Homo sapiens: one gene and its partners. The protein of the gene in region 3 interacts with the protein of the main gene of each other region in a pairwise test. Each region holds a gene or a part of one and is shown on either strand. Other genes may lie near its edges. The genes, in order: PLEKHS1, FRYL, PDCD10 and FARSA.

Region 1 (7,027 bases), on a different chromosome or scaffold from region 3:
AGAGGCCAAAAGTCTACTCAGAAAGTACAGTTGAGAGCCAAGGTCAGTTGCCTGATGTGACTTTTACAAATGTCTTGTTCATAGTAATATCCCCGATGAAAGCCAAGTGGAGAAACTGAACGTTTTCCTTTCTCCTCCTGATGTCATCAACTATCTTGCTCTCACAGAAGCCACAGGACGGATATGGTAGGTTGGAGATTTGACTGTTGTGGATTATAAATGGGGCTGGAAGCTTTGAAGAGAACAATTACATCTTGAAACAGTGTATTTGGCAACACTGACTAGGTTTGGGGCGGGGGAGCTTGGACTGTTGACTGGCTGTTGTTACAAAAAAATCTTTGAGGCAGAAATCAGGGTCTTGTTGTGCAGAAAAGTCAGCCTGGAGGTGAGCAGGGGGAATAACAGGACCCAAAAGTTCAGGAAGCAGCCATTTCTGACTCCTCTAAGGGAGGAAGAAGGGGCTGGGATACAGGTGGCCCAAGGACATCATTTCCAATCACTGTACAATGAGTATTTGATGAATGAGTGAAATTAGTGAAGTCAACAAGAATCAGAGGCCTAAAAGAAGAAAGCACATCAGCTTCTAAGACTTCCAGACACAAGGTTAAAAAAAAACAAAAAACAAAAACTGCTAGTCACAGACACAGACACAAAAGACTGTGTGGCAGAGAATTTTCTTAAAGCAATCACTGTCTATTTGATATGGCATTTTTTTAAAACACTTTGTAATTTATTTTGATGGAAGATTTCATCTTCATAAGGGAAGAAAACTCTTTAATGTAAACACTACACATTAATTGTCTTATAAGTTCTAAGAAGGGAGGAAACACACCTTCCATTTTTTTAAATAGTCCACAATCTAAGGCTCAATACACACTTGACTGAAACTGTGGACTCCTCCATAACTGAGCTGCTACATTCCTTAATTCATTTATTTGTTCATTATATATTCATTGTATAATCATTACACCCTCACTTCCAACAAACGCTGAGCACTCTTTCTTTACTTGGAACCATGGGGTTTTAAAAATTAAAAAACAAAACAAACAAAAAGGTGACATCATACTTCTGGGGTCATGTAACCTGGTAAGAAAAAGACAGCCACAAAAACAAGTAAATGTAAAATGCATTTTATTTAAAAATGTAACAAATCAGGTACTCACACAATGTAATAGAAGTCCAGGGGTAGGGGAGATGAATTATAGCAGAGGAATGGGATGTAGGATTTCATGGGCCTTTGTAAGGGTGGTATAATTTGAGCTGGGCTTTGGAGGAAGGGTTAGGCTCCTATTGTAGTGACAGAGGAAACAATATTCTAAACAGAAGGAGATAGTCTACTTCAGAGGTGGTGCCACGTGACCTAGAATCAGGAGACCCTGCGTGCCCTGCCCTCCTGGCCAGCTGAGCCTCACACTGGTATTGGATGTTGTATTCCCACTGCAGTGTGTCTCAGTGGGAAGGCCCCCCACGTTTGGGATGCATATTTTGCCACGGAGATCATCTTCTGGCAGTGAATGACCTGAAACCCCAGAGCCTGGAGGAGGTCTCCCTGTTTCTTACCCGGTCCATCCAGAAGGAGGTGAGTCGTACTGACCAGCCCTGAACAGGGCAAATCAGTACCAGAAGGAAAAAGATCAGGGTCTTAGATGGAGTCTGAGAAGTACCCTGAATACAAATAAGGTTCCTCATTCTTCCACCATCAAGTGCAAATAACAGAATGTGCTTTCAGGACTCTTTCAGGATTCTTTCATATCAAGTAGCATTTGGAGAAGGCACTGAGCTAAGAGACAGAGCACCTGGGTTCAGGACCTCAGATCGGCATGATGTAGCAAAAAGAGCTTGCATGGAATCAGACTGGTGCAGGGATTCCAAAACAGCTCCTTCAACCAATTTGTGCCTCAGTTTTCTTTTCTGTAAAATTATGACTAATGATGGTGCTGGTTGTTGGATAATTAAATGAGGTAATATGTGTAACGTGCTTACAAAGGTGACTGGCACATATTAGGTGCTCAATAAAGCTACTAGTTACTTTTACTTCTACTACAACTGACCATGGAATGTTATTCAAGCCCATTTTTTAAAGCCTCAGTTTCATTATCTCAGAAATCGTCACAGCCCTAACTTCCTCATAGAATATTGCAAGAATTAAACATAATATGTGGTGCTGGGCACGGTGGCTTACACCTGTAATCCCAGCACTTCGGAAGGCCAAGGCAGGAGAATCAATTGAGCCCAGGAATTCAAGGTTACAGTGTGCTATGATTGCACCACTGCACTCCAGCCTGGAAGACAGAGCGAGACCCTGTCTCAAAAGAAAAACAACAACAGACCACCCCTAATATTATATGGGTATGCACTAAGTATGTTGTTTTTTCAAGGACTAGCTATTGTCCTGCATATCACTGCAGTCTTCATGTGTTAATTCCTTCCCTGGTCTACTTTTCTTTCTAACTAGCCCTGTGACCTTAGGAAATTCACTGCCTTCTCTGGGCTTCAGCTTATTCTCACTAAAGTGAGAGGCTGGTTTTCAAACTGTGCTTCTTGCATCCCCAGGATGGAGGTGAAAGGAGAGGAGAGGAAGGAGAGAGTATGCTGGGTCTTCAACTGGAGAAGCTTACATTTATCTTTTATCTTTTATGAAAAAAAGATTAGTCCAAAATATTGGACTTTCCTGTTAGCTTTCCTTAAAAAACAGTTCTTTGGCTTCAAATTTCTGAAAACCATTGTATTAGATGATTTCCAAATTTCTTCCAGCTCTAGGAATTTTGTGATTGTGTAGCATATCTATATTAAGAACACATCTTATCTCTTCTGCACTACGTAATAATCCCATTGGTCACACAAATTGTGCCATCCCTATTACTCATTACCCTAAATGAGTAATTCCAGTGAGGATAAGTGAATGAGTTGTCTAAGATATATAACTAGTTAGTGGCAGGGCAAGTACACATTCGTTCACTTTCTTTTTTTTTTTTTTTTTTGAGACGGAGTCTCGCTCTTTCGCCCAGGCTGGAGTGCAGTGGCGCAAACTCGGCTCACTGCAAGCTCCGCCTGCCGGGTTCACACCATTCTCCTGCCTCAGCCTCCTGAGTAGCTGGGACTACAGGCGCCGGCCACTACGCCCAGCTAATTTTTTGTATTTTTAGTAGAAACAGGGTTTCACCGTGGTCTCAATCTCCTGACCTCGTGATCCGCCCGCCTCGGCCTCCCAAAGTGCTGGGATTACAGGCGAGAGCCACTGCGCCCGGCCCATTCACTATTTATTGAGCATCTGCTGGGTGCTGTATACTGTGCTAAATTCAAGAGCTACAAAAATGGCCTCAGCCTGAGCTGAAGCTCACAGATTAGTGGATGAAGCAGGCATGTTATGTGCTACTTGCTATACAGTGTGTGCCCTGAGATATGAACACAGGGCCATAGGATCACAGAGGTAGAATGGAGTAAATCTACATGAAGGAGGCCAGGAAGGTGTCTCAAAGAAAGTGGTGTTTGGCTTAGGTTTTGAAGACTGGATAGGAGACTGCATGGTGGAAAAGAAGTAGATTTCAGGGCCCTAGTCCAACAATCTGGTAACTATAGTACATTTTCTCTGCCAAAGATCCACACTGGGCTGGGTGTGGTGGCTCACACCTGTAACCCCAGCACTTTGGGAGGCGGAGGTGGGCAGATCATGAGGTCAGGAATTCGAGACCAGCCTGGCCAATATAGTGAAACCCCGTCTGTATGAAAAATACAAAAAATTAGCTGGGCATGGTGGCGGGTGCCTGTTATCCCAGCTACTGGGGAGGCTGAGGCAGGAGAATAGCTTGAACCCAGGAAGCGGAGGTTGCAGTGAGCCGAGATTGCACCATTGCACTCCAGCCCTGGGAACAGTGTGAGACTCTGTCTCAAAAAAAAAAAAAAAGGATCCACATACACTGGGGCCAAGTGGTCAATATAAGCTTCTGAACTCTTCTGAAAGTTACCAAACACTACTCTGACCCAAAGATCCAGGCATTAATTCAGAAGCCAAGAAAAGGGTTTTTGCCTGTGAGCAGATCCAGGAACTGTACCTGGGTGTTGCTGACTGCAGTTTATCCTGACTGCCTTTCTAGACTGTGGAGTCATTGCATTTCTCTTGTGCTCGTTCTGCCTTCCCTTTCTAATTGATAACAGCCCCTACATGCTATTGAGAAATATGCAGTATTCATCTTCATGATTATCTGGAAGATAGAAAATTCCCTTACTTTCCCACTGCCTCCATTCCTGATTTCTTTGTGTTGATGGGTATCCACTGCTCTTTTAAAATTCAAACACATAGTCCCTGGAAGGAAAAAGAATATTGGAAAAGGGAGATATGGAACCAAAGGAAGAACAGCCATTGGCCCTTGATGTTTTAAAGTGCCTGAGCCAATCCCATTTACTCTCCTTCCTGTTATGCTACAGATGAGGGAAGTGGAGGTTGGGGTGGGGATGGGGCAGGGATTGGGAGGGGAGAGAACTGAGATTTTCAAGGGAAGGGGAGAAGGTGTGTGCAGGGGAAGGACATGACAGGTTGCAGGAGAAACTGATCAAGTTTAAGTTTCCTCCCAATCTTGTCTGGGGGAGTCCTGTCTGGTGGTTTCATTTTGATTCACTTGTTTGAAGAGGCCTTTTTAATTCTTGGTGCAATTGGACCCCTTAGAGCACCATCAATGCTACCTGGATCCTTCCTTAAAAGCTCAGCTTCCTTTTCAGGCCATGGATGCCAGAAAATAAAAATCCACCTTCCACCTAACTAGCCAAGTAAGTCATCCCTGTCTATTTCTGGCCCAGATATTACAGTTCACTGCAGGACTTTCTTCAATACCAGCTCCCAAGGGTATGAATGAGGACAGATTGGGAAGCAACAATCTTAAAGATAATCTTTAGCCATTTAACTTTCTTCTTTCTTGTGTTTTAGAAATTAAAGCTTACCATCGGCAGGATCCCAAATTCAGAGACATTCCATGCTGCATCCTGTATGTGTCCCTCAAAATGCCAAAGTGCTGCACCTTCTCAGCTGGATAAGCCTAGACTGAACAGAGCTCCCAAGAGGAGTCCGGCCATTAAAAAGAGCCAGCAGAAAGGAGCCAGGGAGTAACGCACCCCAGACCCATGGCAGCAGAACCAGGATGGAGCTGGGACTGTCCAGCTCTGCCCCCTGCTGCTGCCATGTGATAGGAGACAGTCGGCACCCCCCTCTGAATTTCTGCATCTGCATCTTAACAATGGGGATGACTATCCCCTCTCTGGTTATTGTATCAGAGATGCTAAGAGGGTCATGTGGCATGATTGGAGAACCTGGGGGAATTGGAAGGCCTTATTATCTCAGCTATTGTCCCAAACACCACAGACACAGATTGGGTCAGTCCTTCATGTAATACATGCTGTGTTCTGTGAGGATGTGGTCCACACAATTCCTTCTTTGTTAAGGGACATACAGTTGCAAATACTCACTGCATGAAGGCAAGATTCCCAAGGGAGATGTGATAGCTGATCAGGCTTCCCAGACACCTCCTTCCCAAACACCTCCTTCCCAACACCTCCTTCCCCAACATCCTTCCCAACACCTCCTTCCCAACACCTCCTTCCCAAACACCTCCTTCCCAAACACCTCCTTCCCAACACCTCCTTCCCCAACACCTCCTTCCCAAACACCTCTTTCCCAAACACCTCCTTCCCAGACACCTCCTTCCCAACACCTCCTTCCCAACACCTCCTTCCCAAACCCCTCTTTCCCAAACACCTCCTTCCCCAACACCTCCTTCCCAACACCTCCTTCCCCCTTCCCCAACACCTCCTTCCCCAACACCTCCTTCCCAACACCTCCTTCCCAAACCCCTCCTTCCCCAACATCCTTCCCAACACCTCCTTCCCAACACCTCCTTCCCAAACACCTCCTTCCCAAACACCTCCTTCCCAACACCTCCTTCCCCAACACCTCCTTCCCAAACACCTCTTTCCCAAACACCTCCTTCCCAGACACCTCCTTCCCAACACCGCCTTCCCAACACCTCCTTCCCAAACCCCTCTTTCCCAAACACCTCCTTCCCCAACACCTCCTTCCCCAACACCTCCTTCCCAACACCTCCTTCCCCCTTCCCCAACAACTCCTTCCCCAACACCTCCTTCCCAAACATCCCCTTCCCAAACACCTGCCTCTCTTCAACCCCACAGGCCAGAGTGCTGAGACAGAGTGGCCTTTTGGATTCAATAAGTATCTTGTTCTCTTAAAGACTCAGCAACGATTTTAGAAGTCGCAGCAGTTTTACATCACATGCAGCCAAGATCAGCTTGCTCTACAAGCAATAACAGAACTACTTAGCACTTCAAGGTTGAAAGTTCTTCACTAATGGATCCATTGACTAATTGATCCTGGAAGGCCAAAGGAATAAAATTCTTTTATATAAATAGGAAAACAAAGGCAGAGAGCTAAAGCACTAATCAAATCGGGGGGTGTTAGAGCAAAAACAGGCTTCAGAAAGAGTATTTTACCATGCTTCACATGGAAAAAATCGAGCCCCGGAGCGATGAAAGGCATATTTTCTTTGTTTCTCCAAGTTTCATAACCGTTCAGTTGCAGAACCAAGAATCTAAAACCAGCTCTGGGAAACAAATGTCCAGATGCCAGCCTCATAGTTGAACTTGGATTTGAAAATACCTTCAGCACTTAGAAGAGACATTCAAATACATTTCATTTCCTGTTACCCAGATTGTTCGGAAAGTATTAAAAATTTTTCATTTACATGCTGATACGGTTTGGATCTGTGTCCCTAACAAATCCCATGTCGAGCTGTGGTCCCCGGTGTTGGAGATGGAGCCTGGTGGGAGGCAGCTGGATCGTGAGGTCGTGGGGGTGGAGTTCTCACGAAGGAGTTAGCATCATCCCCTTGGCGCTGTTCTCGTGATAGTAAGTTCTCGTGAGATCTGGTTGTTTAAAAGTGTGCAGCACCTCTCCGCTCACTCTCTTCCTCCTGCTCCTGCCGTGTAAGATGCCTGCTCTGTCTGCCACAAGTGAAAGCTTCCT
Region 2 (7,027 bases), on a different chromosome or scaffold from region 3:
TTGTGTTTGTCTTGCCTTAGAAACAGTGAAAGTGAAAATGTAGGTTAGCTATGGAATTTGTCAGGTTGAGAGGCTGTTTTGGTTTAGAATGAACTATCTTAAGCAAAGGAGTTAAAATTAGCTGATGCTAAGGACAAGAGTGTCTGAAGAGAGAACTGAAGGAAGAATGACAAGGTGGTGGGGGTGTGGGCATGGTGGACACCTGTACCAGCACACATCCTAGGCGATGACATGACATTCTAAACAGTTACATGATCTCTTGAGACCCAGCTGGACTCCTCTACTTTCTGTGCAAAAGCCTCTAGCAGCAGCTCAGCAGCCACAAAATCTGTGTTCACGGCGGCCGCTATTTTGTGTTGATGATCACTCATATTCATCTTGGAAGGGCTGTCACGGATGCGGGGGTTGGGAAAAAGGAAGAGGCATTGCTACCAACTACCAGGGCAAACCAAACAGGTCAACTGCTTTCAAGAACTAAATGTTATGAGAATTTAAGTTGTTGTTATTGCTTTTTTCTCCCACTCAGGTCAATTAGGGATGGGAAATAAACTATTTCTATTGCTAAAATAGGTGCTGTGCAAAGATCCCAAGCCAGCTAAGTCCACTATCTCTTGAGCCCAAATGAAATAAAGGACCCACAGCAGAACTCTGCAATCTCCCAGATCCCAGTGTTGGAGCATGGCCAGTACTTACACTGGAACAAGATCTTGATGTAGGCGACAAGCAACATGTGGGAGACTAGAAAGAGTTTTGCTCGAGGCACTGTACCACCTGCTCCTATGGTTAGGGGTTTCGCTCACGGAAAACTGCCTATAACTTTATCCCTGCCTATTTTTATTATTAAACATATGCCAATACACAAAATACAATGTATTCAAGAAGTCCTATGTCTACTAAGAAATACTTTTAAGTCACATGTGAAAAGTCGTCCCTCTTGTATTTTTTTCTTTTTGATGGAGTAGGGAGCGAAGGGAAGGTCAGGTATAAAACCCTATAAGGACGCCGTTGATAGAAAAACCTAAATATTGTGACTGATCAGAATTAAGAGTTCTTATTGAAGAAAAAAATATTTCCTATGTAAAGACATGTCTGGTTTTGATTTAACCTGTAATTTAATAAATTTATAATTTTCTAAAAATTGTTTCTGAAGAAATGATTGACAAATAGAAACTACTAACCAGTTCATTGATCATACCTGAGAATATGGCGAGAGTTAGCTCAGGATACGCCCTTGCTAGTTCCTCGGACAACTGATAATATGAAACAGAATAGAGATGTGGTAGAGGAGACAGCTGGCTGAGTACTCCATCTGTTCTCTGAACCTCCAATTTGTGAGCATAGCGAAACATCTTCGGTTCCAGAATCTATAGGAATGTGATTCCATCAACTTAGGTTAAGATTTTATGGGTTCTCTAAAGTTTAACTATAATTTTATAATTTTTAAAAAAACTCTTCTCCCCAGCTGAGTGGAGTGGCTTATGCCTGTAATCTCAATACTTTGGAAGGCAGAGGTGGGAGGATCACTTGAGGCCAGGAGTTCCAGACTAGCCTGGCCAACATAGCAGGACCTCATCTCTACAAAAAAATTAAAAAATTAGCCAGATGTGGTGGTGTGTGCCTGTGGTCCCAGCTACTCAGGAGGCTGAGGGTGGAGGGTCACTTGAGCTCAGGAGGTAGAGGCAGCAGTGAGCCATGACTGTGCCACTGTACTCTAGCCTGGGTGACAGAGTGAGACCCTATCTCAAAAACAAAATGAAACAAAACAAACAAAAACTCTTTCTCACTAAAAGAATTTACATTCCTCGTATTTAATGCCAATGATCCAGGTTAGTAACACAGTCTGAAAATAACTCCAGCAACTTAATATACGATTACTTGAAAAAGATTTACCACTTTTCTCGCACAAAAATATGGTAGTACAATATATGCATAAGTGAAAAAAAAAAACCCTTCAAGGAGGACCTTTCGACATTACACTATTTAAAGAGCTGTACTGCTGAACTTTCCTCTTAATTAACAAAGGCATTAGGGTATAATTCCTAAGATGGATCTACTGGCATCAGAACCACTTCAGAGCCTTTGGAAAAAGCACCTACTTGAATCCTATTCTTAGCCCTTGGTTAAGATGGAAGAATCTTGCCCTATTATGAATTAGTTAAGTATTGCATACTAACAATATATCCGTGTTTGGTAAGTTAACTTTCTAAGTTATTTCTCCTCAACCTAATAAAGAAAATTTACATGAGAATATGATAAAAAGAGCTAATTATTTTTCACATGGCTCTCCAAAAAAATTTGGACACACATTGTTCTCATCTGCTGAACAGAAATACTTACATGGACACATATTTATAAGTACCTTCATACACATACACACACATTATCATAAATAATCCTTCTACAATACACTTAGGAATAGTCTGCATTACTTATAAATTTAAATATCTATATTATCTTTGTCTTATACTTCTAATAATAATTAGGCCTTGATACCATAACTTCTTTACTATAAATAAAGCTAAATACTATTATCAGTATGCTTTAATAGCAAGACTAAATTATTGGGCTTCATTAAATCCTGAGTAAAAAAATATTTAAATTCACATGTTTACAAACCTGTAAAAGTTGCATAGCAACTTCATAGATACTTCTAGAAGAATCAGCTGCTTTAAACAGTATCAGATTTAGAAGCATCACTGTGTCACATTGATAATCCCTAGGAATAAATTTTACATATTAAGTAAATAACAATGTTTAGAGGCTTTTGCACCATTTAATAAATATGATATGCAAAGGGCAAGGCTTATAGGCATCTATCTTCTAAGCCTATGAGGAGACTTGGTTTTTTCAAGGCAATAGGTACAACAACAGATGCATGGTGATAATTGTCCTTATTTTGGTTAAATTCCATTAGAGCACACGTGTTCAACCTTTTGGCTTCCCTGGGCCATATCAGAAGAATTGTCTTGTGTCACACATAAAATACACTAAAAACAGCTGATGAACTAAAAAAAAAAAAAAAATCCATGCATAATTTTTGTAATATCCACCACCACAGATAAGCAAAAAGGTCCTCACATTCAAAGGGTTAGACACGGCTGCATTTGAGCTTAAGAAAAGAAAATACAGTCAACCCTCTGTGGATCAAAAATATGAGGGAAAGGCCAAGCGCGGCAGGTCATGCCTGAAATCCCAGCACTTTGGGAAGCCAAAGTGAGAGGCCAGGAGTTCAAGACCATCCTGGGCAACATACGTAGTGAGACCTCGTCGCTACAAAGAATTTAAAAATTAGCCAGGCATGGTAGTGGGAGCCTACAGTCCTGGCTACTCGGGAGGTTGAGGTGGGAGGATCACTTGAGCCTAGGAGTTTGAGGTTACAGTGAACTATGATCATGCCACTGCACTCTAGCCTGGGTGACAGCGAGACCATGTCTAAAAAAAAAAAAAAAGGAGTATACGGGAGGATTTGCATAGAGTAAATACAAATACTACAGCATTTTATATAGAAGGCTAGAGCATCCATGGATTTTGGGATCTGAGAGGGGTCCTGGAACCAATCCCCCACAGATACTGAAGGACAACTAAACTGGTGTCTTCCTATTTTTGAATTCAAAAGAAAAACTTTTCTTTAAGAAAACAGAACAAAATGAAACAAAAAACCTGTATCTAAAGTACCTGTTCTGGAAAACATTAGCAATGGCTTTAAAGCAGCCGGCCGCCACCCTCCCGGAGCCCGTGTAGCAGCGGTCCACAGCCCAGTACATCAGGTTGCTCTGATCAGGGTTCAGCTCCAGTAACAACGTAACTGCTTCACAGCCCAGCTGGTGAACCTAGGTAAAGGTTGTGAAATTGCCCGAGAGAGAACGTTATATATTTTTTGTCTATTTCCCTATAGTTCTTACTAAAGTAATATAGTGCATATATTCATTGTAATTAATAGAAAAATTCCATCTCCTTTTGTTCACCTCCCTCTCATTTTATTCAGCCAGCAGAAAAAACCACACAGATGAACTGAATTTGGCCTCTCGCTTTTTACGCGAGCCTCTCTAGTATGATTTTGTCTTCCAACAGAGCCCTGAAGGCAGTTAATGAATATGAATAGTGATTAGGTGCTTTCAGAAAAATGAGTCATTAACCTCTCCAATTATTTTTATCAAGCTTTATTCTTGTTTTTGATAACCCAATAGAAAAACTGTTCTGAGGGGAAAAAATGTAAGTCCTATTTTAAATTGTGAAGTCTGTATATGTACAATATGAGAGTAAGGAAGGCAGAGTGTGGAGGGCAAGGAGGAATGATTAAATGGAAAGTGGTTAAAAAAACGAAATGAAACATAGCAAATAACATATTTTTCCCATGCAGCTCAATATGTTCTATGCTGGTATTTTATTTATTGACTTAGAACCCTGTTGAGAGACACATACCACTGTATTAATCCTATAATATAAAAAGGGAAATGAAAATTATTCAAATTAATGATACATAAGAATTGGAACGTTTTTACATTATGGGATCCTATTTAACTTTATATAATATGCTTTTTGCATATGATCCTAACCTATCTTATTTTTTTAAAAGACTTGTTTTTAGTGCAACATACATTAACTGCAAATAATACAATGACAACTTATTATGAACCTTTAAGGAAATTGTCATAATTACCTTTTTGTCCAGAGAATCCAAAATGTTATCCAACCATTTGTACAAATAGCCATCTGATGAAAGTCCTACATTATCTGCAACAGGGCCACAACACAGTACAGCAGACATAGCCTTCAAATAATAATATTAGAATTACATTTAACAAATTTAAGAGGTTAAATGTTGGTTGCTTAATGAGAAGAGGCAAAATACTTATCTAGTCACAATACTTTAATCTTTTTTCTTTACAAATTATTTTTTAAAACTGAGAAATTTATTATGAGTAAGTAAATATGATACCAAATTAGACATGGAGTTTGAACAGTACTGGAAGGGAAGATAAAAAGACCAAGAAAAAGTAATTAAGTAAGGGAAAAAAGGCATTTCTTTCAAGTAATCCTAAGTTCTTTAAGATAATGGTGATCAAATTTGAGTAGATTCTGGAACTGTTTTTCATTGTATTTTATGTATTTAAATATAACTTATGGTATAAGTTTTGAATATGGCAGAAAAACATTTTAATACTCTCAGATCCTCTTTTTAATACTAGTGACTGAGAGACTTAAAAATACTTAACTCTGCTCTTAAGAAAAAAGAAATCAGGTTTCTAAGTAAATACCTTTAACGCACAGTATTGATGTCTATTAATTTGCATATTTCTATCACTGTATCTGTCCAAGGGCGTAAACATGATGCTAAAAGGACCTGCCCAGTGACTGAACAGCATAAATAGACTGTGACGAAGGCTCTGTTGAGGAAAAATACTTCTTCTCTGGTGCACTGTGAATAAAAAAAGATAGAAAACATTTATTTCCATTTCTTTTTGCTTTAACTTTTATACCAACATGTTATTGAATGTGTAATAGTGTAAAAAAGAAAGCAGAAGTTTTCATTTTAAACTATCAAAAACCTCCGCGGTAGCAGGGATCATTTATATATATGCAAATCACAGAAACAAAGTTGCAGTCTGTGTCACCCTGTCCCAGCATTACATGACATAGAGCATCTCTGCAAGCAGAAATTCCATGGCAGGCTCAATGGCACATGAAGGCTGGCACAGAGGTGGGGCCAGGAGTCCATTTCTCCCTGGGCTATCACTGGCTATATGGTAAGATTGGCCAAGATTTTAACACAGACACACCTCTGTATCTTGGTTCACTGGTAAGTAAGGGCTTTGGACGAGATACGTGTTTTCAAACTTTCTATTTTTTTTTTTCAGCAGGAAAGCTGCCTTTTCCTGCTAAAGGAAGCTTACATGTAATCTCAGTATATAAAACAGATAAAAGGGCAGTTCAGGCCTAGTGTCCAAACACATTCTGCTGCTTTCTGCGGATGGCATCAGAGAACCTCAGGGCTTTGAGAAACACCAAAGTTTGAAAACCACTGGTTTAAATGATCTCCAAGGATTTTTTTCCCCCATTTTGAAATTCTACTATATAATTTCTCTACATCTATCCTTCTTGAAGAAACTCAGCAGTATCACAATAAACCAATGTGGAAGTTGTAAAAAAGTGTTTAGTAATAGACTAAACCACATCTTTATATTAGTGAGCTTCAGATCAGAAAATTTCGAAAAAAATATGCTCTTTTCCTTTGACAGTGTCATTTTCCTTTCAAAGATGAAAACAAGGCTCCTACAGTTGAAATTGACATATGTAATTAAGTGCTTAATGACCCTGTTATAAAATACAACCCATGTTCTTTAGGTATCCACTGTCTGTATATACTATTCAAAATAACAATGTGACTTTAATTTTTCAAAGAGAAAAAGAAACACTTATAGTGTATGCCAAAGGCTAGTCACATTACTTCTTACAGTTGTAAATAATTTAACTTTTAAAAATGTAATTGTGTATATTAATCTTCCTAGTATCTAAACCAGTATCTGTCGATATAGACCCTACTCAATAATTGGAACATATCTGGTAAATCAGTAACACGGTATCCTTGTTACATTTTGTATTTATGGCCTATACTCTTTTCCCATTATTCAAAAGTATCTTCTTAATTTTATTCTCAATTATCATGAGACACTGCACTCTGCTTATTGCATCTAAAACAAGGCTATCCTAAAGAGCTTATTCTATTGATTTCTCCAGGTTTTTGTGTCAGTATCCTGATTATTACTGAAATTCTATGCTGGGTTGCTTTTTTATTTCTAATCAGTGACAATAATTCAAAGGGAAAACAAACTCCAGCCATCCAGGTTATGCTGACATATTTTTCCAGTATGTTCATACGTTACTTTATCAACTTAGATTATTAAACCTCAAGGAAAGAAAAAATATGACGGTTCCTTAATACTCAATAATGCTTTAAGAAACTGAAAATAATACCTGGAACATTCTGAATAATATTCGCCACTAAGGCACTAAAATGGCATCGTAT
Region 3 (7,027 bases):
ACCACCACCACCATCATCATCATAAGTGAAAGGGAGGGAGGGAAAACAGTAGGGAAGGAAGATCCTTTGGTCAAATAATAATGATTTAGAGGAAGTGCTATTTAACAATTGTATAACTTAAACAAGGTTCTTCTGTCCGTTACCTTCTACATCATCAGCTGCCATACGAAGAAGGGACTCCGTGAAGTTAACTTCCACGCTTTTTTTCTCTAAAATTTTCATAATGATGTCTTGTGTGAGACCTGGATTTTCTTTTTCAGCCTATAATAAAGAGAAAACTAGTTTTGAAATACAGATAAGGAATCAACATTTTAAAGCCAAAGTTTAATTGTTTAGAATCTGTTGGGAGCGTCTTACACTGATAACTTTTAAGGGCAGAAATCTTTGTAAAGCAGGTGTCATGATAGCATTCACTAAGGCTTTGTTAGAGCTTGTGCACCCGACTCTTTACTATGACTAAGGTTCCATTTTCCATTTGAACAGAAAGAACTTAGTATTTTCTACTCTTCTTTATACTCTTTTGCAATTGAACTAATAACAAAGATAGAATTAAGGATTATATATGTTTTAGTAATCTATCAATTGCTATTCTCATTACTTTAAATATCTTGAGAATTTAAGCTTTTTTTAATGTGCTAATACTGCAACTCAAGGATCAAGCAATAACTCATCTGACTAGTGTTTTGCATATTCTTTCCATTTATATTAAGAGAATGCCAGGAAAAACAAAAAAGGATTTATTTTGAAGGTTTTACTGAACCTATATAATAATACCTTAACTATTTTCCCACACAATGATTTTCATTTCCTATTTTATTTTTGTAGCAAGAATATTTCCTTCACTGGTTTCTAGAACATCATGAAACCTTTTACTACCTTTTGAGCTTGTTTCATTGAGTTTGCATTGGTTCTATGTTACTTAGACTCCCCAAGACACTAAAATTTTCTAGCCATTTCAAGACTGGGCATAGAGTTCTGAGTTTACCAAAGCCAGAGTTAATCTTCAGATTTCAGTTTTTCCCAGTAAATTCTGTAATCACACTTGATGTTTGTTTCCTGTAGGATGCCTGCCAATTTTAATCATTATGCTGATGATTTTCTTTCCTTTTTGCCCTAATATTAAACAGCAAAATAGAAACACAATTTACGATCTTAATCAGATGGCAATCTTTTTGTTTCCTTATGTGTCAAGCACACTTAACCTCCGCCTCTTCAATTCCATTGATTATCACTGCAGATACAGTTTTCTTCTCTTCCTATTGCTCTTTCCATTATAACATCTTGTTTCTCATTAGATCTCAAGTATCAAAAACTGAAGGGTTGTGGGATGAAATGAGAAAAGAAAATACACGCATTTATTCCAATCTTCGGATCATTTTAAATGCTGTCAGATACTATTCAGGAAAATCATTTTGATAGATGATTAATAACAATAAACTGTGTTTGACTGAATCCTGTTTCTTTTACAGCCTATGTTGACTTTTCCTTCCATGGATATATATTTTAAAAAGAATCTACTTTTTAGCCAGGCATGGTGGGGTGTGGCTGTGGTCCCAGCTACTTGGTAGGTTGAGATGGGAGGACTGCTTGAGCCCAGGAGTTCGTGGCTGCAGCGAGCTATGATCATGCCACTGCACTCCAGCCTATGATACAGAATAAGACCTCGTATTAAAAACAAAACAAAACAAAAAAAACTGTGTTTTTTAAAAAAGGAGTTTCCTTTATAAGATGTCCAAATATGGCTTAAGATGTGTTGTTATAGCATTAATGCGGTGAACTGCCACAAAATTACATATAATGTAGCATTCAGTAACAATACTTTATCTTATCTAGCAATAAATCTTCCTACATAATGAATTATCTTGGGGAGAGGGGGAACATTCTCTATGTGCTTGCAGGGGACAGAAAAAGAAAAGCATATCTCTGATTAAGTTATAATAAAGTACTGAAAGGTTAAAATGCTGAAAGTCTGAGAATAAAGTTTTCAATACCAAGCTGGTCTGGGACCCCAAAATGCTAAAGCTAGAGCATTACAAAAGTCTCACAAAGGTCCCTAACTTTCTCAGTTTTCAGTGTCCTTAGTGCCAAAAGATACACCTCACAGTGCTGTTTATTAAATACTTAGGTCTAAACAACTTAATAAGTATAGTGTCCTAACTACCTAGCCTTTAAAAAAATAATACACATAAATTGAAAAAAACAATTTTTACTCTGTTCTTAAATAACTATTGTCACTTATTACTGGGATGTGTGTGCCTACTGGGCACTTCATAATTTCTCAAACATTGGTCTTAGATTGGACCTTGCCCCTCTCATTTCCTCTTGCAGATATATTTTTTTCTGGTACTTCTGTTAGATCATAGCACTGGCCAAAAAGTCCAGCTTCTCAATGATCTAACACCAATGAAAGCAGTGAAGGACAATCCAATATGCTAAATTGCAATCCATCTCAAGCTAGGAGTCCATGCAGTGTCAAACAGATGTTGAGTATCACTGTACACCTTCACAATTTTAAAATACTTCGTGGCACCCCTCTGAATTTGCTATGGGCCACCAGGTACCTCAGTACATAGTTTGGAAGGAGTAGTCTCAGTACCTCCTGGCTAAAAACCTGGTTAAGCTAATTCTTATTTCAAAAGCTTGAATTTACCAAATGGCTCTGACTGACAAAATGAATAAATATGGTCTTAAATCAGGGAGACAATCTACAACTCTTAGGTTTTCCCTCAGAATACAACATGAACCCTGTAGGGTGTCTAATCTTTGTAAAGAATCCAGCTGTAAGAAAAAAATAAACCGAAGGGCAGCAACATACACTCTTGTGGATCAGTGATTCTCAGTCTGGAAGACGGACAACCTATCGGAACCTCTCATAGAGGATAAGGGGGAGAGGGAATCAAGTAGAATATAGCTGACCCTTGAAGAACTGGTTTTAACTGCTCAGGTCCATTTACATGCAGATACTTTTCAATAAATATATAGGAAAAATTTTTGGAGATCAGCAACAATTTGAAAAAACTTATAGACAAACTGAGTAGCCTATAAGTAGTGAAAAAAATAATAAAAACACATGTTATGAATGCATAAAATATAGTTATCCACTAGTCTATTTTAGTATTTACTATAAAATAGATACAAATTATTAAAAAGTTAAAATTTATCAAAACTCACACGCAAACAGACTGTACATGGTGTTATTTGCAGTTAAAAGAAATATAAACAAATATACAGATGCAATATTAAATCATAACTGCACAAAATTAACTGTAGTACACGTGTATATGTAATAAGTTTGAAGCCACCTCCTGTTGCTATTGCAGTCAGTTCAAGTATTAGTAAGTATATGATTAAAACGCCATGTGACTCTAATCAACTCCATGTGAACAGTTCATCTCTCCAGCAAACTGCACATCCCAGTACAAAGTAATACCTCCCAGCCCTCACATATTTTTCTCATCGTGTTTAGTGCAATACTTTAAACATGGGATAATACCATGGGACCCGACAAAGTGCCACTAGTGATGTTGGAAGTGTGCTCAAGAAGCAAAGTCATGACATTACAAGAAGGTGTATTGCATGATACTGAATTGCTTGAATACAGTCTAAGACTCACTGTAAGAAAAAAAAAAAAGGAAATTCATGAAACAAAGCCATTGCTGCAGCTACATCAGCAGGTACAAAAACCTTGCATGTTTTGTGAAATACCTTTTTGTCTCCTGTTGAAAATGCAGCTTTTATGTTGGTGCAGGATATCTATAAGAAAGGCATACCTATAGACCCTAATATGATTCAAGAAAAAGCAAAGTCATTCTATGACAACTTAAAGCAAAAGGAAAGTCTAAAGCTGAAGAATTTAATGCCAGCCAAGGATAGTTTGATAATTTTAGAAAGAGGTTTTGCTTAAAAAATGTCAAGATAACAGGAGACCCAGATTCTGATGACCAAGAGGCAGCAAATAAGTCCCCACACACCATTAAGAAAATCTTTGAGGAAAAAAATATCTGCCTGAAAAGGTTTTTAATACAGATCAAAGTGCCCTATTCTGAAGGAAAAAATAGCCACAAAGAATATTTATTAGTAAAGCAGAGAAGTGAGCACCAGAATTTAAGGCAGGAAGAGATAGGACAACTCTACTGTTCTGTGCAAATGAAGTCTGGTTTATGATCAGGACTGTCCTTATTTATAATGCTGCTAAACCCTCAAGCCTTGAAGGGAGAAGAAAAACACCAGCTTCCAGTCTTGTGGTTGTACAAGAAGACCTAGACAAAGAGAACCCTTGTTCTAGCCTGGTACCATCAATGCGTTGTTTCTGCGGTTAGAAAGCATCTTGGCAGGAAGGGATGGTCTTCTGAAGTTCTTCTGATTGTCTATATATATCTATAGAGATACCTATATATCTCTATATAGCTAGATCTACAGATATCAGATATATATTGAGATATCAGATATATATATAGATATCAGAGATATCTACATATACATACACACACATATATATGTATTGTATATTTAATTAGAGACAAGGTCTTCCTATGTTGCCTAGGCTGGTCTTGAACTTCTGGCCTCTGGCCTCACACTTCAGCCTCCCAAAGTGCTAGGATTACAAGGCATGGGCCTCCGCACCTAGCCTTTATTATTATTGTTGTTCAAAAAAATTCTTCTGATACTGGATAATGTCCCTTGCTTCCCAGAACCCCATGAGTTCAACACTGAAAGGCATCAAAGTGGCCTACTTGTCCCAAAACACCACACCTCTAAATCAGCCTCTACATCAGGGGATCAAGAACCTTTAAAGCTCATTATACATGGAACCATAAGGCCTCTATGGAAATGGCTGTCAACAATCCTTGGTAGAAAGAATACCATGAAAGTCTGGAAGAATTACACCACTGATGCTACTGTTGTTATAGAAAAACCCATCGAGCCTAAAACAATAAATTTCTGCTGGAGAAAACTGTGTCCACATGTTGTGCATGACTCCACAGGATTTACAACAGAGCCACGGAAATCATGAAAGAGATTGTAGATATGGTTAAAAAAAACGTAGAGGATGAAAGGTTTCAAGATATGGATATCAGAGAAATTTAAGAGCTAATGGACAATGAGGAAGAAGACAAAGGAGTGCCAGAAAACAAATGGACATTAGACAACCCAGCAGAAGAGTTCTCTTTATTCAAGGCTGCTTTATGACATGGACCCTTCTCTGATACAAGCACTGAAACTAAAGCAAATGTTGGAAGATTGGTACTGTACAGAAACATTTTTAGAGAAATGACAAAGCAAATAAGTCAGAAATTAAACATATTTCTGTAAAGTTACACTAAGTGTGCCTGCCTCTCTTGCCTCCCCATTCACCTTCTCTACTTCTGACATCCCTGAGCTAGCAAGACCAACCCCTTCTCTTCTTCCTCCTCCTCAGCGTATTCAATGTGAAAACGACAAGGATGCAGACCTTATGATGATCCACTTCAACTTAATGAATAATAAATATATTTTCTCTTATGATTTTCTTAATAACACTTTCTTTTCTGTGACTTTAAGAATACAGTATGTAATATATAGGATACACAAAACATATGTTAATCAACTGTTTTTGCTACCAGTAAGATGTTCTGGTCAACAGTAGGCTTTTAGTAGTTAAGATTTGTGGAAGTCAAAACTTATACTCAAATCTTCAACTCTGCAGGGGGTCAGCACCTCTAACCTCCACACTGTTCAAAGGTTAACTGTATATACATTAAAATATTCAATGGTATTATCTTGGGAAAAACTATTTTAATCCTCTTTTCCCTCCAAATAACAAAAACCATGATGAAAATTATTGTCGTTGCGGACCAATAATTGGAATTATGAATATAAAAGATTTTATGACTGGTGAGGTTTCTTTCATCTTTTTCAAAAGTTGTAATTTAAAAAATACAAGCATCTTTACATTTTTAACATGTCCTCCTTCAATTTCACTTGAAATGTAACAAACTAAATGTGATAATTAAAAATACATCAGTGTAAAATTAGTTACTTTGTTTTCTTCCAAAATAAGTAATCTATGCCATAGACAACAAACTTTATCCATGGATCAAACCACATCTATCACGGTCACATAATTGTACTTAAGTGTTAGATAATTAGCTTATATGTTAGGATGTTACAAGAAAAACCCTCAGGAAATTTATTATTTTATTTTATGAATGTCATTGAAGATACTATCTACTCCTTCGGACAGGGTCTTCTTCTCTCTGTTCCTGGCATTAGAAAAGCTGAAATATTGACTTTTCTCTTAGCAATACTACTGTACAGATTACTTTTCCTTCTTCTTTTGGCCACAAAGATGCTTAAGATAGCATCATGTCTCCCTAATGACCAAATATGCCATTCCAAAGCCAAACTGACACTCAAAGAAGAAAACAACAATAAAAAAAAAGAAAATGATTATGGTGTTGCTTCATTAACCCAATGATTTGGCAGGATGCAATTTAATGAAGCTACTAAATATATATGTACTCACCTTGAATCACAGAATATTAAATCAAAAAAGCTCTATTCTAACATACGTAATGTAGATTATTAAAGTAATATGAGATACCTAGTGACATGACTTGTGCTACCAGAAAAGAGTGTTATCAATAAACTTGTGTGACATGGAAGAAATCAAGCAGAATGGGCTTATAGTTTCAACTCCAATTAAAATATAAATGTATTCCACATTTAAACATTAAAATACTTTACCTAAAACACAGGTTATTTGAGCTACTGATGGGAAGGAATGCAAAAATAAAAATTAAAGTTTTGGGCACCATAATATATATTTGGGATGGAGGACCAGATAAAAGTTTTATATTAAAGAATGCATTCAACATGTACAGTAAGTCTCTAGAGTAGGGCTGTACAACAGAAATGTAATATCAGCAACAACTATGAGCTACCTATGTAATATTAAGCGGCCACATTTAAAAAAAAGTAAAAAGACACAGGTAAAATTATTTTAATAGTACATCCAAAATATTATTTCAACATGTAATCATTATAA
Region 4 (7,027 bases), on a different chromosome or scaffold from region 3:
GGCCAGGCTGGCCTCGAACTCCTGTCCTCAGGTGATGCACCTGCTTCAGCCACCCACAGTGCTTGGATTACAGGCATGTGCCACCACGCCTGGCCTGTTTTTATTCTTTGTAGAGGCGGAGACTTGCTCTATTGCCCAGGCTGATCTCAAACTCCTGGCTCAGGCGATCCTCCTGCCTTGGCCTCCCACAGCACTGGGATGACAGGCATGAGCTACCACGCCTGGCCTGATGTACTTGTTGGTCTTGCTAGTTATCATCCTTCTCGCTCCACTGGGACCCCAGATTCAGAGGGAGGGACATAAGCTGTCATGTTCACAGCACGGGGCTGAGCATTCAGTTTGTACTCACGATGAAAGTTTTGTCCATTGGATGAATGAATGGGTGGTGCTGAAACCACGCAGGCCCCTATACCTGGAGAGTTATTTGAGGCAGCTGGACACCCCGAGTTTCCACTTGGGCACTTACCGCTCCAGGGAGAGGCCCCAGGCAATGACCGACACGTTCTCGGGAAGCCCCATGGGCAGCAGCATCTCTGGACGGAAGACCCCCGAGTTTCCGACCTCCACCCACTTCTTCAGGCCTGCAGAGGCAGGACAGAAAAGACGGGCAGTGCGTGTTGAGTTTCTGGGCACTGCTGGTACAGGTTCTGGGTCTAGGTGGTGAGCTTGGGAGGTGGGGTACAGGCATGGCAATGGGGGGACCCAGGCCAAACCATAGTAGCCTGAGACCTCCCTCCCACCCCAGTACCAGGGCCTACCCTGACCTTGGTGGTAGCTGAACACCTCCATGCTGGGCTCTGTGTATGGGTTGTAGGCTGGCTTGAAGCGGAGTTGCGTGATACCTGCAGGAAGTGGGGGGCGGGCAGGAGAGCAGGGGTTTGGAGGATAATGCTGGTGATCAACACACCTGCCCGCTGCCTCACCACCATGGCCCACCCCTGCCCCCCTGCTCACCCAGCTTGGTGAAGAACTCCCGCAGAACGCCCATGAGGTGGCCCAAGGTGAGACCATGATCCGCCACCACGCCCTCGATCTGGTGGAACTCAGCCAGGTGCGTGGCGTCCAGGGTCTCATTCCGGAATACGCGGTCGATGGAGAAGTACTTGACCGGAGTGAAGGGCTTCTAGGGGTGACAACCGAGCCAGGCCCAGGTATGGGTCAGAAGGTCCCTTTGACAGCACCCTCTCCCCACTGGGGCCCCCGCCTGGGCCAACCGCACCTTCTGGGCAAGGCGGTAGAGCGCACGGGCGCTGGCTGATGTGGTGTGGGTTCGCAGTAGGTTTTTCCGGGCCTCGTCCAGCTTCCAGTTATACTTGTACCTTCAGGAGGGAAGGTGGGAAGTCCATGCAATGGCCCAGGGGTCCCCAGCCTCCTTCCCTTCCATACCAGGTAAGTCCTGCCTCACCCCTGTGAGCCGTAGCCGCCCTGAGAGTGGGTCCGCTTGACCCGCTGGACATAGTCCATTGGGAGCTGCAGGGCCTCCGCTGGATCTGGGCAGGACAGAGCAACATCAGGTCAGTCAACGAGCATTTCCCACCCCTTTTTTTTTTTCAGACAGGGTCTCACTGTTGTCCAGGCTGGAGTGCGGTGGTGCAATCTGGGCTTACTGCAACCTCTGCCTCCCAGGTTCAAGTGATTCTCGTGCCTCAGTTTTCTCATTTGTGTGTGGCTTTTTTGGGTTCTTTTTTTTTGAGACAGAGTCTTGTTCAGTTGGCCCAGCTGAAGTACAATGGCTCAATCTTGGCTCACTGCAACCTCCACCTCCCAAGTTCAAGCAATTCTCCTGATTCAGCCTCCCAAGTAGCTGGGATTACAGGTGCCTGCCACCACACCCGGGAAATTTTTGTATTTTTAGTAGAGATGGGGTTTCGCCATGTTGGTCAGGGTGGTCTCGAACTCCTGATCTCAGGTGATCCACCCACCTCGGCCTCCCAGTGTTGGGATTACAGGCATGAGCCACTGCACCTGGGCTTTATTTATGTATGTACGTATGTATGTATGTATTTTGAGATGGAGTCTTGCTCTGTTGCCCAGGCTGGAGTGCAGTGGCATGATCTTGGCTCACTGCAACCTCCTCCTCCCAGGTTCAAGCAATTCTCCTGCCTCAGCCTCCCAAGTAGCTGGGATTACAGAAGTGCACCACCACACACAGCTAATTTTTTATATTTGGTAGACGTGGGGTTTCACCATGTTGGCCAGGCTGGTCTCGAACTCCTGACTTCAAGTGATCCGCCTGCCTGGGCCTCCCAAAGTGCTGGGATCATGCCACCGCGCCCGACCTTTTTATTTTTTCTTTTTTTTTGAGACGGAGTCTCGCTCTGTCGCCCAGGCTGGAGTGCAGTGGCGCGATCTCGGCTCACTGCAACCTCTGCCTCCCAGGTTCGAGTGATTCTCCTGCCTCAGCCTCCTGAATAGATGGGACTACAGGCACACGCCACCATGCCCAGCTAATTTTTGTATTTTTAGTAGAGATGGGATTTCACCATGTTGGCCAGGATGGTCTCGATCCACCCACCGTGGCCTCCCAAAGTGCTGGAATTACAGGCGTGAGCCACCGCGCCCGGCCTATTTTTTTTTTTTAAAGGGACAAAATTTTTTTTTTTTTTAGACGGAGTCTCGCTCAGTCACCCAGGCTGGAGTGCAGTGGCATGATCTCGGCTAACTGCCAGCTCCGCCTCCAGGGTTCACACCATTCTCCTGCCTCAGCCTCCCGAGTAGCTGGGACTACAGGCGCCCGCCACTATGCCTGGCTAATTGTTTTTGTATTTTTGGTAGAGACGGGGTTTCACTGTGTTATCCAGGATGGTCTTGATCTCCTGACCTCGCGATCCGCCCGTCTCAGCCTCCCAAAGTGCTGGGATTACAGGCGTGAGCCACCGCGCCCGGCCTAAAGAGACAAAGTCTTGCTCTGTTGCTTGGCCTGCAGTGCAGTGATGCAATCATAGCTCACTGCAGCCTCAAACTCCCAGGCTCAAGCAATCCTTCACCTCAGCCTCCCGAGTAGCTGCAACTACAGGCGTGCACTACTATGCCCAGCTAATTTTATTTGTACAGATGGGTCTTTCTATGTTGCTTAGGCTGTTCTCAAACTCCTGGGCTCAAGCGATCCTCCTCCCTTGCCCTCCCAAACAGTGGGATTATACCCACTGAGGCTGGCCAAGTTTCCTTCTTTGTAAAAAGGGGTAACAGTACTGCTTCCAGTAGTTGGCAGGAAGATTAGAATAGTGGCTAGTATGTGATGAGTGCTTAGTAAGTTTTGGGTGCTATGACAATAATGACAAGAATGATGTTGCTCCTCTGGCCAGGTAAGCCGGCACCCAATGACCTCAACTGCCCTCTTGGTCAGGAAGGCCACCCCATTGTGGGAAGTCATTCCATTTCAGACAGTGCTAAGGGCAATGAAAGAAAGAAATGGGACAGAAGAATGAACACTAGGGGAGAAGGGCTTCTGTAGAACTCGGGGTGAGCCCGGGAGTGTTAGGCTGGCCTGTCTCTGGTGACACGTGAGCAGAGATTTGAGGCTGCAGCCTGCCTTGAAGATCTGGGAGAAAACAGCTCTTGGCTAAAGACGGAACATAAGCAAAGGCCCTGAGGTGTGCACGGCCTGGAATGCCCAAAGAAGACATGGGGGCAGGCAGGGTGTGGGGGCTCATGCCTGTAATCCCAGCACTTTGGGAGGCTGAGGCAAAACTGTTTGAGATCAGGAGTTTGAGACCAGCCTGGGCAACATAGTGAGAACAAAACAAAACAAAAATTCATTAATTTTGGGCTAGGCGTGGTGCTCACGCCTGTAATCCTAGCACTTTGGGAGGCTGAGGCGGGAGTATCACTTGAGGTCAGGAGTTCCAGACCAGCCTGGCCAACATGGCAAACCCCATCTCTATTAAAAACACAAAAATTAGCCGAGCGTGGTGGCGGGTGCCTGTAATCCCAGCTACTCAGGAGGCTGAGGCAGGAGAATCGCTTGAACCCAGGAGGTGGAAATTGCAGTGAGCTGAGATCGTGCCACTGCACTCTAGCTTGGGCGACAGAATGAGACTGTCTCAAAAAAAAAAAAAAAAAAAAAAAAAAGCCAGGTGCGGTGGCTCACGCCTGTAATCCCAGCACTTTGGGAGGCCGAGGCAGACTGGAGTTTGAGACCACCCTGGCCAACATGGCAAAACTCCATCTCTACTAAAAATACAAAAATTAGCTGGGCATGGTGGTATGCACCTGTAATCCCAGCTACTCGGGAGGCTGAGGCAGGAGAATCGCTTGAACCTGGGAGGCAAAGTTTGCAGCGAGCCAAGATCATGCCACTGCACACTCCAGCTTGGGCGACAGAGTGAGACCCTGTCTCAAAAAAAAAAAAAAAAAAAAAAAAGACTGCAGGTGGCATAATGAGAACAGAGCTTGACACATCCAACAAGGATGGACTTTAATTTAACTCAATTAATTTTTTTAGAGGTAGATTCTTCCCTATGTTGCCTGAGCTGGATTTGAACTCCTGGGCTCATGCAATCCTCCTGCCTTGGCCTCCCAAATAGCCGGACTACAGGTGCACACCACCATGCCCAGTTCTAGACCTAATTTGATCAAATGGGATGCCCATCCTGTAAAGGCTCCGCCGTGGCCTGGTGTCTCTCATGTCTCAGGGAGGCCCTAGGGGCTGACCCACCTCGAAGGAAGAAGGTGTCGTGCTGGTCACGGGCTGGGTGCTGCTGGGGCTGGAAGAGGGCGTCAAAGTTCCAGAAGGAGCTCTCAATGAAGTTATCAGTCGGCATCTCGGTGAACCTGGTGGGAGACACAGCCTGACTGCCCTGCCTGTACCCAGCAGAAGCACCAGGCACCGCCCCCAGCCCTGTGCTCACCCCATCTCCAGGAAGATCTGTCGGAACTGGGAGCGGACCTTGAGCAGCGGGTGAAGGTGGCCGCTGTCGGGGAGGACACCGTGGGCCAAGAAGTTGTAGGGCTTGAAGGGCCGGTCCCGCCAAGAGCCACTGGGGGAGGATGCAAGGGCCTGGTAAGGGCTGCCCGCCCCTGCCCCCTGCCCCAGCTCCCACCTGCCCTGACCCTGGGGTTGCCTGCTACCTGGAGATCATCTCTGGGCTCAGCTCTGTCTCTTGCTTGGAGATGCTGGTACTAAAGGCACTGCCTTTGCTCACCCAGTAGGTCTTCAGAGTCCTGTGGCCAGGGGAAGGAAGGGGACGCCACTGCCATCTCCTCCTAGAGGACTTCCTTGATCTCCCGTCTGATGAGGATCCCCATGCTACCTACCAAGTCACTCTGCTTTATTTCCATCCTGACATTTATCACTACCTGAAATCCTCCTATGTGACCATGCTGTATCTCCCTGTATTCACTCACTGATTCATTCAACACTTACTGAGAACCTAATGTGTGCCAGGGTCTGTTCAAGGTGCTAAGTACACGACTGAGTGATGATACTAGGGAAAGTCTAGCAGATTTATTCTGTGCCAGGCTCTGTTCTGCAAAAGTCTCCCCACAAGCCCCGGAAAGAGGGCAGTTTTTTTTATTTGTTTGTTTGTTTTCCTTTTTTGAGACAGAGTTTTGCTCTTGTTGCCTAGGCTAGAGTGCAATGGCACGGTCTCAGCTCACTGCATCCTCCACCTCCCAGATTCAAGCGATTCTCCTGCCTCAGCCTCCAGAGTAGCTGGGATTACAGGCACCCGCCACCACACCCGGCTAAGTTTTGTATTTTCAGTAAAGACGAGGTTTCACCATGTTGGCCAGGCTGGTCTCGAACTCCTGACCTCAGGTGATTTGCCCGCCTCGGCCTCCCAAAGTGCTGGGATTACAGGCATGAGCCATCGTGCCTGGCCCCTTTTTCTTTGAGATGGGGGTCTCTCTATGTTGCCCAGGCTGGCCTTGAATTCATGGATTCAAGTGATCCTAACACTTCAGCCTCCTGAGTAGCTGGGATTACACACGTGAGCCACACACTTGGCCCAGGCTATTTTATAGATAAGGAAACGGAGACCAGCAAAGGCCAGGTGACTTGGCCAAGGTCATAAAACTAGTTAAGTGACAGAGCCCGAACTTCAGTTAGGCATCCCAGCTCTAGTCTCTTCTCTCTGCCACTCTGTGTCTGCTCAAAGGGGACATTTGTCCTGTGAGAGGACGGCCCCTAGCCCATCTAGGTTCCAGAGGCCTGTCTGGTGTGTGTTCATTAAACTTTGGACCACACTAAGGACAGTGAAAGAAATGAACAAGCACCAAAGATGAAGACTAGGGGCGATGGGCTTCATGGAACTCAAGGGGAGAGGAGGGCTGTCAGGGTGGCCTCTTTAAGGGGACACAGGAGAGAGACTTGATGAGGAGCCTATCTTGAAGATCAGAGGGAAAACAGTTCTCAGCAGAAGGGTCCTCATGGGCAAAGACCCCAAGGCACGTAGGCTTGACAACTATGGCATTAAGCGAGCTGGGAGGAAACTGGCCACACCTGTGCTTGGTGTGGGCAAGATGTCTCCCTCCCACCATGCCTCCACCATGCTTCGCAGGTGGTGGGGGCCTGAGCCTGCAGGGGGCACCCACTCACACTTCAGCCAACAGCTTCCTCTTCCTCAGCTCGCTCCTCTCCTTCTCCCCCAGCTTCTCAGCCTGTCCCCCCCGGACCAGCTGGAGCCGCCGCTGCACCTCATCCTCCATGCTGTCCACCTGCCAGGATAAGGAGTGTGAGGGGTATGAGGGCCAGGGGCCCATGTGCCCGTCCACCTGCCCCCTGACCAGCCCGCAGGAACGCACCACTCGGAACACCCGGGGCCCGTCAGCCGCACTCTTGTCCACCCGAATCCACTTGTTGGACATGGCCTTGCTGAAGCCCACTTTGCCACTGGGCAGTCGCTGGAAAAGAGAGGCTGCAGTGAGTGGGGCACGAGGGCCACCTTCATCCCATCACTCACTCCCCATTCACCCCGCAGCTCCTACCATAAGCTCGCTCTGGGCCAGGCCCTCTGGGGGAATGCTTCGAAACACACGGGCCTCATGGCTGCCCTCCCGGGCAATCTCCTCGCCCTCCGCAGTAAGC

What was found.
Region 1: the proteins of PDCD10 (region 3) and PLEKHS1 interact in binary tests that used the Homo sapiens proteins (3 or more experiments, as listed by UniProt).
Region 2: the proteins of PDCD10 (region 3) and FRYL interact in binary tests that used the Homo sapiens proteins (3 or more experiments, as listed by UniProt).
Region 4: the proteins of PDCD10 (region 3) and FARSA interact in binary tests that used the Homo sapiens proteins (3 or more experiments, as listed by UniProt).

Annotation. Positions count from the first base shown.
Region 1 is NC_000010.11:113,775,681-113,782,707, forward strand, and holds part of PLEKHS1 (pleckstrin homology domain-containing family S member 1), read left to right. Parts: exon of another isoform or gene 1-84; coding exon 85-186; intron 187-1,443; coding exon 1,444-1,579; intron 1,580-1,729; coding exon of another isoform or gene 1,730-1,960; exon of another isoform or gene 1,961-2,043; intron 2,044-2,312; exon of another isoform or gene 2,313-2,374; intron 2,375-4,921; coding exon 4,922-5,101; 3' UTR 5,102-7,027.
Region 2 is NC_000004.12:48,560,273-48,567,299, forward strand, and holds part of FRYL (protein furry homolog-like), read right to left. Parts: coding exon 6,976-7,027; intron 5,420-6,975; coding exon 5,259-5,419; intron 4,772-5,258; coding exon 4,661-4,771; intron 3,831-4,660; coding exon 3,676-3,830; intron 2,717-3,675; coding exon 2,617-2,716; intron 1,365-2,616; coding exon 1,196-1,364; intron 1-1,195. UniProt on the Homo sapiens protein: Plays a key role in maintaining the integrity of polarized cell extensions during morphogenesis, regulates the actin cytoskeleton and plays a key role in patterning sensory neuron dendritic fields by promoting avoidance between homologous dendrites as well as by limiting dendritic branching.
Region 3 is NC_000003.12:167,696,866-167,703,892, forward strand, and holds part of PDCD10 (programmed cell death protein 10), read right to left. Parts: intron 262-7,027; coding exon 144-261; intron 1-143. UniProt on the Homo sapiens protein: Promotes cell proliferation. Modulates apoptotic pathways. Increases mitogen-activated protein kinase activity and STK26 activity. Important for cell migration, and for normal structure and assembly of the Golgi complex.
Region 4 is NC_000019.10:12,923,685-12,930,711, forward strand, and holds part of FARSA (phenylalanine--tRNA ligase alpha subunit), read right to left. Parts: coding exon 6,928-7,027; intron 6,863-6,927; exon of another isoform or gene 6,844-6,862; coding exon 6,745-6,843; intron 6,658-6,744; coding exon 6,539-6,657; intron 5,164-6,538; coding exon 5,071-5,163; intron 4,980-5,070; coding exon 4,851-4,979; intron 4,774-4,850; coding exon 4,658-4,773; intron 1,491-4,657; coding exon 1,406-1,490; intron 1,320-1,405; coding exon 1,220-1,319; intron 1,124-1,219; coding exon 955-1,123; intron 843-954; coding exon 765-842; intron 582-764; coding exon 467-581; intron 1-466.